Homo sapiens: one gene and its partner. The protein of the gene in region 2 interacts with the protein of the main gene of each other region in a pairwise test. Each region holds a gene or a part of one and is shown on either strand. Other genes may lie near its edges.

The links.
Region 1: the proteins of SINHCAF (region 2) and ZFP41 interact in binary tests that used the Homo sapiens proteins (3 or more experiments, as listed by UniProt).

The regions. Positions count from the first base shown.
Region 1 is NC_000008.11:143,242,223-143,249,938, reverse strand, and holds the start of ZFP41 (zinc finger protein 41 homolog), read right to left. Parts: upstream 3,001-7,716; 5' UTR 2,797-3,000; exon of another isoform or gene 2,190-2,796; intron 250-2,189; 5' UTR 96-249; coding exon 1-95. UniProt on the Homo sapiens protein: A putative DNA-binding regulatory protein associated with meiosis in spermatogenesis.
Region 2 is NC_000012.12:31,281,136-31,288,156, forward strand, and holds part of SINHCAF (SIN3-HDAC complex-associated factor), read right to left. Parts: intron 6,650-7,021; coding exon 6,499-6,649; intron 1,737-6,498; coding exon 1,577-1,736; 3' UTR 1-1,576. UniProt on the Homo sapiens protein: Subunit of the Sin3 deacetylase complex (Sin3/HDAC), this subunit is important for the repression of genes encoding components of the TGF-beta signaling pathway.

The sequences.
Region 1 (7,716 bases), on a different chromosome or scaffold from region 2:
CCGGACACCTTCTCCTCTCTGAGCGCACTCTTCTGCACGTCTGCCTCCTCCCTTGGGGTCGGCGTCTTCTTTTTTCTGCCTGCAGGCTTCTCCATCATTCTGTTCCTTGGAAGCGTGAGGGCTAAGGGGCTGCTGACCTCTCTGTTGGCCCCACTTCCTCAATGGCTTGCTTCCCACGCACCTCTCCACACTCCCAGCGTGGGACTGATGCTCTGCACCAGGAGGCCAAGGGCCACCATCCTCTTGGTGCTGGGGAGAAGCAAGAACATGAACCTCAGATTAAAGGTTTGCCTTTCAGGGGATGTGGGATTCAGGTGCGGCCCCTCCCTTCCCATGTGTTCCCCCAAGAGTGTCTCAAACGGCATTGCTGATCTCCCCGGAGCCCCACCTGACTCTCTCCCGGCCTTTCCTTGTCTCGATGAAGGGATCAGTTGCTCACCAAGGAATCCTTGCTCCTCTGCCGGGGTTCCGGGTCTGCACACCATGTCCACAGGATCTGATGTACCCACCAACTGCCCTGCGGCTTCCCTCCTCCACCCCCGAATCCCCCTGGTTCCTGCCGTAGTCTCCTTCTCCACCATACTGGGCTTGGAACCAGTCACCGTGCTTTGAAGCTACAGGCTGCAGGGACCACACGTGCCCAGTGGAGAGTGCTTCCATCCCCCAGAGGCTGGGTTCTGAGTTCATGAAACCAGGGCTGCCCCCCTGCCATGGACCACAGCAGCCAGCAGAACCCCTCATGTCACATCCTTCCCACCTCAGCTTCCTGAGTAGCTGGGACTACAGGTGGGAGCCACCATGCCCAGTCATATTCTAAGAAATAATATTCCGTACCCTTTGTATTAGTTCTTGGTCAACCAGGCTGGAGTTTGAGGCCAGGGTTGACCCTAGGTAGAAAGTGGAGCTGATATGCATGTCGTAAGTGACACAACTCAACACATAAATACTTTGAATTCTCTTTGTTGAGAGGAGGTTGGTGGCCTTCCCTCCTCTCCCTCATGAGTGCAGGTAACACATAAACTCACTACAGATTTCCTATCTCAACAAGGAGGGTCTGGTCTTTTCTACAGGAAAATGTTTAGATGAATGTGACTCAGTTTCAGGCCAACATCACTTTCTAGGGCTCTATCTAGAGGTGGCGTGTGGGAGGAGGCAGATCAGGTGGGCGCCAGAACTGAAGATGAAGGCCACGTGTGCTGAGGGAGGATGCAGGCATAAAGCAGCATCTCTGCTGGGGTGGGCAGGGGGTGGGCCCTGGTGCCCAGGATAGAGGATCACAGCCCAAGCTGGCTGGAGTTTGAGGCCGGGGTCCAGCTCTGGTAGGAAACAAAGGTGAGAACCAAGAACCAGCACAGAAGACCAGTCGACCAGCTGTTTGCCTCATGGGCAGGGCGGAGCTGGAGAAACGGCAGCTCTCCAGGGCATGGCGGGAACCTATCTGGCTCTCTGCAGACTCCACTCCACGGCGGGGCGGGGGGTGGTTTGTGAACCCACTGAGCCTAACGGCTGCTGCCCGAGGCCTGTGTGGGGGTCCTCCATGCTGTACAGCACTGTTCCTTCTTCCAGACACTTGTCACTGCACGTGTGGCTGGTCACTGACATGGCAGTCTCCTTATGCGACAGGGTCTCCTGAAGGCGAGGATCGTATCTTTTTTATCTCCAAATCCTAGTCACATACTGTGGTCAGGGAACATTCTCCATAACGGCTCTGTCGACTCAACTTAGGCTGGCAGGTGCTAACCGGCAGAGACTGGAATGACTCACTTCTCTACACGCTGCCCACCCTGAGAAATAAAATATTTCTTAAAAGCAGAGTGGACTGGCCGGGCGCGGTGGCTCATGCCTGTAATCCCAGCACTTTGGGAGGCCGAGGTGGGCGGATCACGAGGTCAGGAGATCGAGACCATCCTGGCCAACATGGTGAAACCCTGTCCCTACCAAAACACAAAAAATTAGCTGGGCGTGGTGGCACGTGCCTGTAGTCCTAGCTACTCAGGAGGCTGAGGGAGGGGAATTGCCTGAACCCAGGAGATAGAAGTTGCAGTGAGCAAAGGTCGCGCCAGTGCACTCCTGCCTGGCGACAGAACAAGACTCCGTCTCAAACAAAAAAACCAAACCAAACCAAAACAAAAAACCCCACACGCAAAAAACAAAAACGGATTGGACCATAGCGATTTTCTTGGCCTCACCTCACAGGCCTGTAGACAGGAGTGATTAGCTAGTTACAAACAGCGCAACCCACGCTTGCCACACCCCTAAAGACTGGGGTTCTGGTTCTGTCGTGCAACTCCAGCGTAGCTCCGTCGCCTCTCTGGGCGGAGGACCCTTCACTTGTAATATGAAGCTCTGGGTATCCGTGGGCGGTAAGGGCTGCCTAGAAAACCTCACTCACCCTGGCGCCTCCCTCCACTACTTTCAGGGATCTGGGTCTCATGGAGAGACTGGAACATTAGTGGGCTTGAGATTCAGGGGCAATCTGCACTAAAACAGCCTGCTGGGTCCACGGCCTGCCAGGGGCCTGCTAGCTGTGCCAAGGCCTGAGATGCCAGGCATCTGAGCCAGGCGGAGGGGCCCGCCAGGGTCCCGTGCGTGCTCCTAGTTAGAGGCTCTCCTTTCAACGGCAGAGCCCCGCGGCCCACGTGCAGAGCTAGGTCGGCCTCGGGGCCGGCGCCCGGGAGGTGCTCAAAGCCGGGTCTTGCCACATCCCTGGAGCGCCGGGGTGCGGGGAGGCGGCGGGGCCCATACCGACGCTGCGCGTCCTGGGCCGGAGGCGGCAGGCAGGAGCCCAGTGAGTACCTGGCTGGAGACGAGAGGCGACGAGGACCTCCCGCTGCAGAGCGCGGACGCGCCCGGGCCCTACCAGGACTGCTGGAGGGCGGGGAGAGGCGCGCGCCCCTCGCGGGGGCCGGAGGCAGGAAAGGAGAGCCCTAGATGCGGGACCCCCCAACAGCTCCCCACCAGTGCCAGCGTCCCCGTCGGCCCTAGGCACCGGCAGGAAATGCCCGCCCGCTGACCCGCCCCTTCCGGCGGCCGCGCTAGGAGCCTGGGCCGGACTCGGTGATGGTGGGCGGTGGAGGGCTCGGCCCGAGCGGCTCCATCCCCAGCCGACTCCGCCCCCGAAGACCCCGCCCCGATCAGGCCCCGCCCCCTCAGGCTTCACCCATAACTGCCGCCACGCCCGCAGGGTCCTCCCCGAGCTGACCCCGCCCCTTTACAGTCGTCTATGGCAGGCGCCCTCCCGAAGGCTCCCCCGAAATCAGGTCCCTCCCCGAGCGGGCCCCGCCTCCGAAAGCTCCTTCCCGAGCCGGCTTCCCCTCATGCCCCGCCCCCTCAGGCTCCGCCCTCGTGTCCCGCCCCCGAAAGTTCCTCCCCAGCCACCTCCCCACATGCTCCGCCCCCAGGCTCCGCCCCATGTCCCGCCCCCAAAAAGCCCCGCCCCGAACCGGCACCCTCATGCCCCGCCCCCAGCGGCCCCGCCCCGCAAGGCCCAGTCCCCAGCAGCTCGGTCCCGAGCCGACCCTGTCACGTAGGCTGCGCCCACCAGACTCTCCGGATCCGACGCGCGTGGGCTCCTGGCTCCAGACCCCCAACGGGGAGGTCGCGGCCGCGTGCTGGGAGACTTGTCCCTGAGGACGCTCCCCGCCAACCCCCAGCCCCCGCCGACCCCCAGCTCCCGCCTCCGCCGACCCCCAGCCCCCGCCTCCGCGGCGCCCACGGCTTGCCTCCACGGGAAGTCGCTGTCTCCGCCTTCAGCGCGGAAGGAGAACCGACGCCTCTCCAGGCCGCGGGCCCCTAGCTAGGCGGGCAACGCCTCCACCGCCGCCGCCACCGCGTGCGCGCCCTGGCGAGCCGTCCCCCACCACGTGGCCCCTGCCGCTCCTCCCGCCGCAGGCAGCCCCTCCGGGATGTGCTCCCAGCCGCTGGCTGTGCTCACTCCACTTCCTGCCTGCCCAGATCGCACTGAGCCGCCAGGCCCGCCAGAGCCCCGCGTGTTAGTTCCCTACGTACCGCAAATTGGGTGTCCTAAAACGACATCCGCCTATTATCTCAAGGCTTCTGTGGGCCAGAAGGCCAGGCTTAGCTGGGTCCTCAGCTCTGGTCAGCCGCTGTGTTCTCATCTGGGGGCTGGACTGGGGAAGGATCACTTCCCACCTCATGCGATTGCTGGCAGAAGTCATGTCCTGGTGCCTGTAGGACTGAGGGCCGGCAGGAGCTGCTCTCAGCTCCCGGGGGCTGCCTGCCAGTCCCTACTGTGGGAGGGTGGGCGGTTCACAGGGTGGCCGCTTCCCCAGGGTCCGTGGGAGAGCCCCACCCCCAGATGGAGTCCTGTGGAACAGAACCTAATTGTGGGTGACATGCCACCCCCTCGGCCCAGTTCTACTCAGATTCAAGTCACAAGTGCCGCCTGTAGCCAAGGGAAGGATGGGCATTGGGCTGGCTCTGGCACATCTCCTTAGGATATCTGCAGCATTCTGCCCCCCCAACACTTCCCATTTCCACTTTCTATATGATTTCCTTATTATATTTATTATTAATTATCCCCCGCTCCCACACTCCCATGCAAATCAGCTCTTGGAGGGCAGCCACCTGTTCTTGTTCTGGGTGCCTGATGTGTGCTGGGCCCTCGTGTCGTGTGGACTGAGTGAGCATGAGTGGAGATCTTAGGTGCTGCTGGTGTCGTGGCACCCTAGGAACTGCCTGCCCCCACCCAGCCCTCTCTCCAACTGCCTCCTGGACTTAGCAAGGTGTTGAAAACCAGGCAGTTCTGCTCCCTCCTCGTCCCACCCCCCTCTCCCATCCTGTTGCTTTTACCTCCCAATGTTTTAAACCACCCACTCTTGTCCAGCCTGCTTCCTCTGTCCCGGCTGCAACCCCATCTCCTCTCACCAGCATTACTTCTGTGCCCTGCCCTGGGGTCTCCCTGCCTTCATTTGGGCTCCCCTGTCCACCCCTCCTACAGCAGCTGGAGGGACTGACTTACCGGGCAAACCCACAGTGGCCCTCCCAGCTTCACGCCTGTCCTGCAGGATGAGGTCTGGGCCCCCTTAGCAGCTGCAAAGGGGCCTGCACAGACTTGCAGGCCGCCCCTCTCACCACCCTTTCCCCTTCCAGGAGACTCAGCAGCAAGTGCTTGCCCTGCCACACAGCATCGGCTGCATGCCTCAACCCTGGGCCTTGAACACCCCCGCTCCGCCTCCGCCTGACAGACCCTTTCCTGCTTTTTAAGACTCCACCTGTTCGAGCTCCTCTGTGCCAGCCCCGGCCTCGCCCCTGCCAGCCTTAGGCCAAGGCTGCGTGGGTAGCTGTCCATACAGGTTACATGCTGCACATGACCCTCGGTCAGGGCTTGTCTTTTTCATCTTTGTATTATCGGGGGCCAACACATAGCCCATAGCAGGTGCCTAATCCATATTTATTGAGCAATTGATGACTGATGGGGCTGGGACAGAGAGAATAAGACTGAGAATAAGAATGGCAGGGTGGGCGCAGTGGCTCATGCCTGTAACCCCAGCACTTTGGGAGGTCAAGGTGGGTGGATTGCTTGAGGTCAGGACTTCGAGACCAGCCTGGCCAACATGGTGAAAACCTGTCTCTACTAAAAATACAAAAATTAGCCGGGTGTGGTGGTACGTGCCTGTAGTTCTGGCTACCTGGGAGGCTGAGGCAAAAGAATTGCTTAAACCTGGGAGGCAGAGGTTGCAGTGATGCTGAAATCATGCCACTGCACTTCAGCTTGGGTGACAAAGCGAGACTCCATCTCAAAAAAAAAAACAAAAGCAAACAAACAAAAAACAAAAGCAGAAGAAGGAGAAAGGTGTCCTTCCCCTATCTCAAAAGAGACAGCCCCTTGCCTTCTAAATGAGCCAGGTGGCCCCTCCAGTCCCTTCAGGCGTGGTGGTGGCTGGGCCGGCCCACCAGAGACTCCATTTGGTGCCAACACCATTGGTATGTGATATGTGGGCAGAGGCTGTTTCCCTGGCCCGGAATCTCCCATTGTCACCAGACCCCCCCGCTCCAGCTACCCTGTAAATATGGAAAGAAGCTCCAAGGGCTGAGGACCCCTTTCCTGCAGAGCTTCCCACAGAGGCAGCCTCTCTGAAGAGGGGCTGGGGGCCCCAGGCTCTGCCATGTCTCTGCTCCTCATTTCTCTCGCACATCCCTGTTTTGTGCCCTGCCTGCGTGCTGCAAAGGCTGGAGCTGCCCGGAAGCCCAGGCCTCTTGTTCTGGGTGGCGGGCTGCCTCTCATGGCTGCCTGGGCACCTCTGGGTCACAGTCCTATGTTCCGATGTGGGAGTCCTATTGCTAGTGAGTGGGGTCCCAGTCTGCTCTGCAGGGGACAGCCACCAGAGAAGAGGACTGAGGACAGGAGACAAACACTTCGGTCTCTTAGCTTAGAGAGGGACAGAGAACTGCTTTCCTCCTGAGTGGTTTACTGTCTGGCCTGTTGGATTGAATGGTGCCCTTTCACTTTTCCCTACTGCCTGCACAACCACCCGGGAGCTTTTCCCTTTTCTTCCTCCCCCTCCCCCTCCTCCCCTCCCCCTCATCCCCCTCCCCCTCCCCCTCCTCCTCCCCCCCTTCTCCTCCTCCCACTCCTCCTCCTCTTCCTGGTGTTTTTTTTGAAGTCATGCCATTTCAACTTTGTCAGAACACACACAGCACATATGGTTCTTCCCCTCTCGACTGCACTTCTCTTTCTATGTTGGGTCTACCATTCAATGTATCACCCCCGTGGGTCTTACGGCTGACCCGTAAGCAGCTTGTGGTTGGAGGAAGCCCATCTAGGAGGTTCCTCCTGATGGGCCTATAGTTGCAGGACCCCTGAGCTCTGGCAAGTTTAAAACTGCTCTCTTGAAGCTGTAATTCCTTGAAGGAAAGCTTGAATGGCTGCACAGTTCGTTGTTTTCTCCCTTTTCTTGAGATTTTTGAAAATGCTGCTTCGTTGTTGCTATGTTCATTTTTATTGATTTTGAGGAGTTTCAGGCCCATCTAATTCTCATGCTCCTGAAAGTTATTTGATGTTTCTGCCTGGAAGCCCTGATTTTTGCAGTATATTATGTAGGGTCCAGCCCCACAGGGTCGGTGGGTTGGGAATTTTCTTTTTCTTTTTTTTTTTTTTTTTGAGATGGAGTTCCGTTTTTGTTGCCCAGGCTGGAATGCAATGGTGTGATTTTGGCTCACTGCGGCCTCTGCCTCCCGGGTTCAAGTGATTCTCCTGCTTCAGCTTCCCAAGTAGCTGGGATTACAGGCATGTGCCACCACACCCGGCCAATTTTGTATTTTTAGTAGATACAGGGTTTCTCCATGTTGGTCAGGCTGGTCTTGAACTCCTGACCGCAGATGATCCGCCTGTCTCGGCCTCCCAAACTGCTGGGATTACAGGTGTGAGCCACCACACCTGGCATTATTTTGGGAATTTTCATAAGCTAAATCATCTTTTCATTTTCCCCTTTCTTTTTATAGTGGTTTTAAATAGATGAAGTTACCCCTTAGCATGTCTGTGGACAGAAGTTTCAGTTATTTTATGAGATTCTTAGTCCAAGAGGGACCTTTCATGTCAGGGTAACAAGGTATGGTTTCTTTACTTAGTGCCTGTTATTTTATTTATTTCTCTATTATTTATTTATTTTTTGCAGGGGGTGAGGGGAGTCAGTGGAGAAGGGTGCTGTGAGGTTTGATTTTTTTTTTCTTTTTTTTGAGATGGAGTCTTGCTCT
Region 2 (7,021 bases):
ACAAGGCAGGCAAATGTTTCTCCCTCATTTTGAAAAGACTGAACTGGCAATGCTTTTCCTGAACATTTAGAAAAGAGGCAGTAAGAGTACTCTGGTTTGGGTTCAAGTGAGAGGCTTTTCATGAAAATCTTAGGATTGAAGAGCTCTAAGTTCAGGATATCTCAATGTTCAGAAAGCCTGACTAAAAGAAGCCAAACCAAAACCATTTAATGTGAACACAAACCTCTTTTCTTTTAGTAAGTTTTACTTTTAATACAGAGTGAAAGAAAATAAAAATTTAATAGGCTAAAACAAGTCAAACACCCATTCTACACAGATAAAAACCTTCACAAAGGTCAACTGAAGTAATCCAGAGCTGAAACTGAATTGTGCAGATTTTCAATGAAGTCACAGAAGTCATGTAACACAAACAAAAGTCGATTATATTTACACACTCAGCAAGCCCTCTAAGAAATGTGCCCCAAGAAGCATTAACCTTTGTTTTGTGCCATCCTGAAGACTTGCACATTTTATTTTTCAGATAGCTTAACATTTTTAATCGAGTGTGTTCTCTACCATGCGGTAATGCTTTGGTACTATTCATACAGGGTCTTGCCTATCCTAAAGACTTGCCATTTCCCCAAGAGGAGCTTTGATTCTGCTTTAGAAGTTTTACATAAATTAAAATCTTTATCAAATATTAATATGAAGGGAGGCACAGGATGCAACATATATAGTCAAGTTACCTCTCTGTATATTTAGAAATTACTTTCTCCTCCAAGGTATTTGCAACAGAAAGCTCAGTCTGTCCTGCTTAATAATCAGTAGTACAGGTGTGAATCATCAGAAGCTTGGCAAGACCTTAATATTTCAAAATTATTAACAACTACCTCTAGGGGCAAGTTCATGTTACTGAGTTATGACAAATTTATTATCATGAGGGAAAACAAGAGTAGCCAGCCATCTTAAAAATGCCCCAACCACTGCTTCTCAAAACAGAAAGACTAAAAACTACATACAGTTTATCATACAACAAATCCCATCTCTGTCCCCTGAAATTCCCCTAGTTTCATTCATTAGAAGGGGATTAAAAAAAAAAAAGACTTAAAGAGCACTTTACAGCAGCATTCAGCTTTCCTATGAAATACTCAGCATCTTAAATATTATATACAACTCTTTTTTTAGTAAGCTAGACACTGGCTTCAGAGTTTGTGGGAGTGGGGGAAATCAACCCATTCAAAACTACTCTAGAAATTGTCTTTTGGCAGAATAGCAGGTATCCAAGTTAAAAATAAGAGGGTCATTTAAGACCAGCCTGGCCAACGTGGTGAAACCCCGTCTCTACTAAAACTAAAAAATTAGCCGGGTCTGGTGGCGGGCACCTATAAACCCAGCTACTTGGGAGGCTGAGGCAGGAGAATCACTTGAACCCGGGAGACGGAAGTTGCAGTGAGCCAAGATCACGCCACTGCACTCCAGCCTGGGTAACAAGAGCAAAACTCCGTCTCAAAAAAAAAAGAGGGTCAGTTTGTAGCTTTGTGGTTTTTCAAAATTCAGATATTTTTTTTTTTGTTCCCCTTCTACATAAAAACCTCAGTCACCACTCCTGAGTGGAGATGGGCAGAGGCTCTGGCCCCTGCTCCTCTGGCTTCTCAGCAGCTGCTTTCTTATTGCTGCAGCAAGGCTTGAAGAGATGTGTGTCAATGAGGACTTCCCCAAAACGGCCTTTATAGATGATCCCACAACATATCTTCTGTCTAAAAGAAAAAATGGAGAACAAGATACATTAATAAGGAAGAAAAATAGGAATACAAAAGAAATCTACTCACTATTATAACTAGTCCAATATAACCAAAGAGTTGTGCTTCTACAATCTTGCACATTCCAAGTGAAAGGGCTCCTAGAGTAACCCCAATTAGCTAGAGAAGGGGAATTACCCAGTTGCCTTAAAGGCCACACTGGAATCTTCTCAAATATTGAGGAAGACGGCATTTTGAAAGACAGCAGTCAGTTTCAAAGGCTGCCCCTGATGTTGTTAACTATTTCCTCCAAAATCACCAACTCTTGAAAAAAAAATCAGCCACCATAAACAGGCTGATGCAGCTAGCAATTTTTTATATATATTTAATTTTTTTTCTTTATCAACTCCTAAGTGCTTGAGTGGTAATTTTTAATTAAATACTGAGTAGATAAAAATACATGTGTGGGCCGGGTGTGGTGGCTTACACCTGTAATCCCAGCAGTTTGGGAGGCTGAGGTGGGCAGATAACTTGAGGTCAGGAGTTCGAGATCAGCCTGGCCAACATGGCGAAACCCCATCTCTACTAAAAATGCAAAAATTAGCCAGGCGTGGTGGCACGTGCCTGTAGTCCCAGCTACTTGGGAGACTGAGGCAGTAGAATCACTTGAACCCAGGAAGTGGAGGTTGCAGTGAGCCGAAATCACACCACTGCACTCTAGCCTGGGAGACAGAGCAAAACTCTGTCTCAAAAAAAAACAAAAAAGGGTGTGTGTTAGCAAAGGCATCAAAAATGACAACACAATGAGAATGCCTACAGACCACATACTCTAAGGGAAAAAAGATCATTTCCTATGAAGCCCCCTGCAGGCCCCTCCACAGTCCCATCCTACCTCATCTCATCCTCTCCCCACTTAATTTTAGGTTTATCACTCCCTTTTCTTTATACTTCATGGTTTCACCGTATGTTGGCATCTCTAATCATACTGCACAGTTATCCATTACACACACACACACACACACACACACACACACACACAGAATCACAATGTATTCTGCAATGTTTTAGTCAACGTTGAGATCCATACATATTGTTATAGAGCTTTATTTCATTTTAACATGTATAATATTCTACCCTGTGAATATATAACACAGTTTTATTTATCTACTCTTATTTTAATGTATAAATCAGTGGACACATCTTAAAGGTTTTTACTAGTTTATATTGCTGGCATATAGGAATGGGAACGTCTTCAACTTTACTCAAAAACGGCCATTTATCTACATGGTTATAACTATTTACACCTATAACTGACAGTGTTCTCATCATTCCATACCTTCTCCCCAACATTTGGTAATAGACTTTATTTTAGTTTTTTCACCAATCTAATGAGTATAAAATGGTATCTCATTGAAATTTTACTTTGTATTTCCTTGATTTTCAAAAAGTTTGAACACATTATCATTTAATGAGTTATTTCATGATTCCTTTCTAAGTGTGTCCATTTTTCTGTTGGTTTATCTTTTTCTTCCATTGTAGGAGTTGTCTGTATATTCCAGATACTAATCCTTTGTCAGATATATGTGCTGGATATCATTTCATTTTCTTTATGGTATTATTTGATGAATTTAAGTTCATAATTATAATGTAATTAAACCTGGAGGTTTTTTTAAATGCTTAAGTACTCTGTCATAAAAAAATCCTTTCCCACTCAAAAGTCATAATCTATTTTCTACTTTAATGCATCTGTAATTGGTGTTTGTCTATGGTGTGAGGTAGGGAACCCAAGCCCAATTTTTCCACATGAATAACCATGTTGTTCTTAATATCCTAGCAACACTTATTGAACAGACCATTTTCGCCCACCAATCACCCCCACATCATGTATCACATAACAAGTGCTATATACATATGTGGCCTTGTTTCCAGGCTCTCTATACTATTCCATTGGTTTATTTTTCTATTCCTAGTCCCAAAACACATTAATTACCATGGCTTCATAATATGTCTTGATTTCTGTTAGGGCAAGTTTATCCACATCTTTCTTTTTCTTCTGAAGATGCCTATTTTGGGCCCTTTGCTTTTCTATATAAATTATAAATTAGCTTGTAAAGTTCCATAAATATGTTGGGATTTTGACTGCAATTACCCTGAATCTACAAAGTGATCATCTCCCTAACAGTCAGTTTAATAATATCTATGAATGTGCTATACCTCTCAATTTATTTAGGTGTCTTTAAATGTTATTCAACGGCCGGGCGCAGTGGTTCATGCCTGTAATCCCAGCACTTTGGGAGGCCAAGGCGAGCAGATCACCTGAGGTCAGGAGTTCACTATCAGCCTGGCCAGCATGGTGAAACCCAATCTCTACTAAAAATACAAAAATTAGCAGGGTGTGGTGGTGCATGCCTGTAATCCCAGCTACTCCGGAGGCTGAGACAGGAAAATCGCTTGAACCCAGGAGGCGGAGGTTGCAGTGAGCCAAGATCACACCACTGCACTCCAGCCTAAGTGACAGAGTGAGTCTCTCTCTCTCAACATAGACATATATTTATATATATACATACACACACACACACACACACACACACACACACACACATAAATAAATGTTATTCGACAATATTGTATGATTTTTACATAACTCCTCCAAAGGGCTTTTGATATTTTACTACATTATTTTATATTTCCTAACACTATGATAAAATGTATCATTCTAATGCCAAACTGCCTAGATTTAAATCCTGCTCTACTTACTATGTAACCTTAAACAAAGTACTTCCTCTTTGTACCTGTGTTTTCACATAATGCTTCACAGAATTGTCATAAAGACTAAATAAGGCCAGGTGCAGTAACTCACACCTGTAATCCCAGCACTTTGGGAGGTCAAGGCAGGCAGATCACTTGAAGCTAGAAGTTCAAGACCAGCCTGGCCAATATGGCGAAACCCCATCTCTACTAAAATACAAAAATTAGCCAGGCATGGTGGTGCGTGCCTGTAGACCCAGCTATTTGGGCGGCTGAGGTGGGAGAATTGCCTGAGCCCAGGAGGCGGACATTGCAGTGAGCCAAGATAACACCACTGCACTCCAGTCTGGGCTACAGAGTGAAACTCTGTCTCAAAAAAAAAAAAAAAAAGATTAAATAAATGCAAACAAAGTGGTTTAAAGTACTTTAAAGTACTTACACTATGCACTAGGCACTGTTCTAAAGTGTTTACTACTACACTACTACCAATATTGTATTGGTTAGAACCTTCTGTATAATGCTGAATAGAAATGGTGATAGTCAACACTCTTGATTTGTTCCTGATCATAGAGAAAATGCTTTCATTTTATCACAATTATGTATTATGTACTTTTGTCCTTTTTGTAAGATACCTGTTGTCTAAGTAAAAAAGTTTCCTTCTATTCCTATTTTGCTAAAACTTTTTTTTTTTTAAACCTTAAAGGAATGTTCAAATTTGTCAAACTCCTTCTTTGCACCACTAAGAAGACAACACCTTCCTTTAGAAACTATCAATGTGGGCTGGGCACGGTGGCTCACGCCTATAATCCCAACACTTTGGGAGGCTGAGGCAGGTGGATCACCTAAGGTCAGGAGTTCGAGACCAGCCTGACCAACATGGTGAAACCCCTTTTCTACTAAAAATACAAAAATTTAGCCAGGTGTGGTGGCCATGCACCTGTAATCCCAGCTACTCGGGAGGCTAAGGCAGGAGAATCACTGAACCCGGGAGGCAGAGGCTGCAGTGAGCAGAGATCGAGCCATTGCACTATAGCTTGGCAACAAGAGCAAAACTCCGTCTCAAAAAAAAAAAAAAAAAAGAAACTGTCAATGTGGTAAATTATATTAGTTGATCGTCTCATGTTCAAACCAATCTTACATACCTAGAATAACCCTAGTGGCTGATGATATATTTGTTTTGGTATCAAACTTATATCAGCCTTAAAAATGCTTGGGGCCTATGCCCTATTTTATCCATAGTCTGGAAAAGCCAGTGCATAGGCTCCAATCATCTGTTCCTGGATGTTTAGTACAACTTGCCTATTGTGGTTTGTTTGTTTGTTTGTTTGTTTTTTTAAATAGAGTCTTGCTTTATCACCAGGCTGGAGTGCAATGGTGCAAAAATAGCTTACTGCAAACCTAACCTCCTAGGCTCAAACAATCCCCTCACCTTGGCCTCTCAAAATGCTAGGATTACAGGTGTGAGCCATCACACCTGGCCTGAATCAATTTATTATGAGATTATCTCCGTTTTTCACTTTTTCTTGAGACAGCTTTAGCAACATGTCTTTTTTCTAGTACTGTACCTGCTTCACCTGTATGTTCAAATTTATTGGCATCAAGTTGTCTATAATATCCTATTATTTTTTAAATGTCTGCTTTATCTATACCTAAGTCTCTTTTCTCTTTCCTAAAATTGCTTATGTGTATTATCTCCTTTTCCTGATCCACTTTATCTCTAGTATATTTTTGGTCACGTCTTTTTGAAGGACCAACTCTTAGTTTTACTGATTCTCTCCACTGCATATTGTCTTTCTACTCCACTTATCTAGCAATAGGCAATGTAGGTACCTTGATGTGATTTTTATTTTAAATAAATTTTAATAGGAAGAACATACAAAAATCCCACTTCCCTGCTCAATTCCTGCTTAATCCACTGCAATCGTGTGTTACCAACTGTTTGCCAAATGCCATTTAATTGCTAAGGAAGTAGAAAAATACTGCCCATAATTAAGATGGTTTGCTGGTTAGAGAGATACTTTGTTTCTTTTACCTTTTCCAGTAAGTGAGATCTAAAAAGGAAAAAACTGGTGTTCTGTTAGAACCAGAAGCCATCTCTGTATCTGAGCCGTCATCTGACTGGTTACTGTAACAAGGAGATTGAGCTGGGGAGGCACTTGAGGTGGTACTGTGAGCATCAGAATCTGCAATAAAGATTAAGAGAAAAAATAAAATTTTCAATTTCATTACATGTAATTGCAACTAAACCTCAGCATAAGACACTGTGAAAGAGTTGGTAAAAAAGAAAAAGTAAAAAATAATTCATTTTCTATGCACTACTGATATTTGAAGATATTCAGACTAACGTGTTTTTTAAAGAAGTGAAGAAGATGGAATAGACATACTTCCTATTCCTCCTGCTTATACAACTAAAATCCCTGGATATTATATATAAAACAAACCTGAGACTCCAAAAGGTGATGATCATCTAGGGAGCTCAAGACCCAAGGCAAGCCATGGTGGTAGGTTCCTTAGTTTTTCTGGATTTTCCTTTTGCCTCATAATCCCCAGCTTTG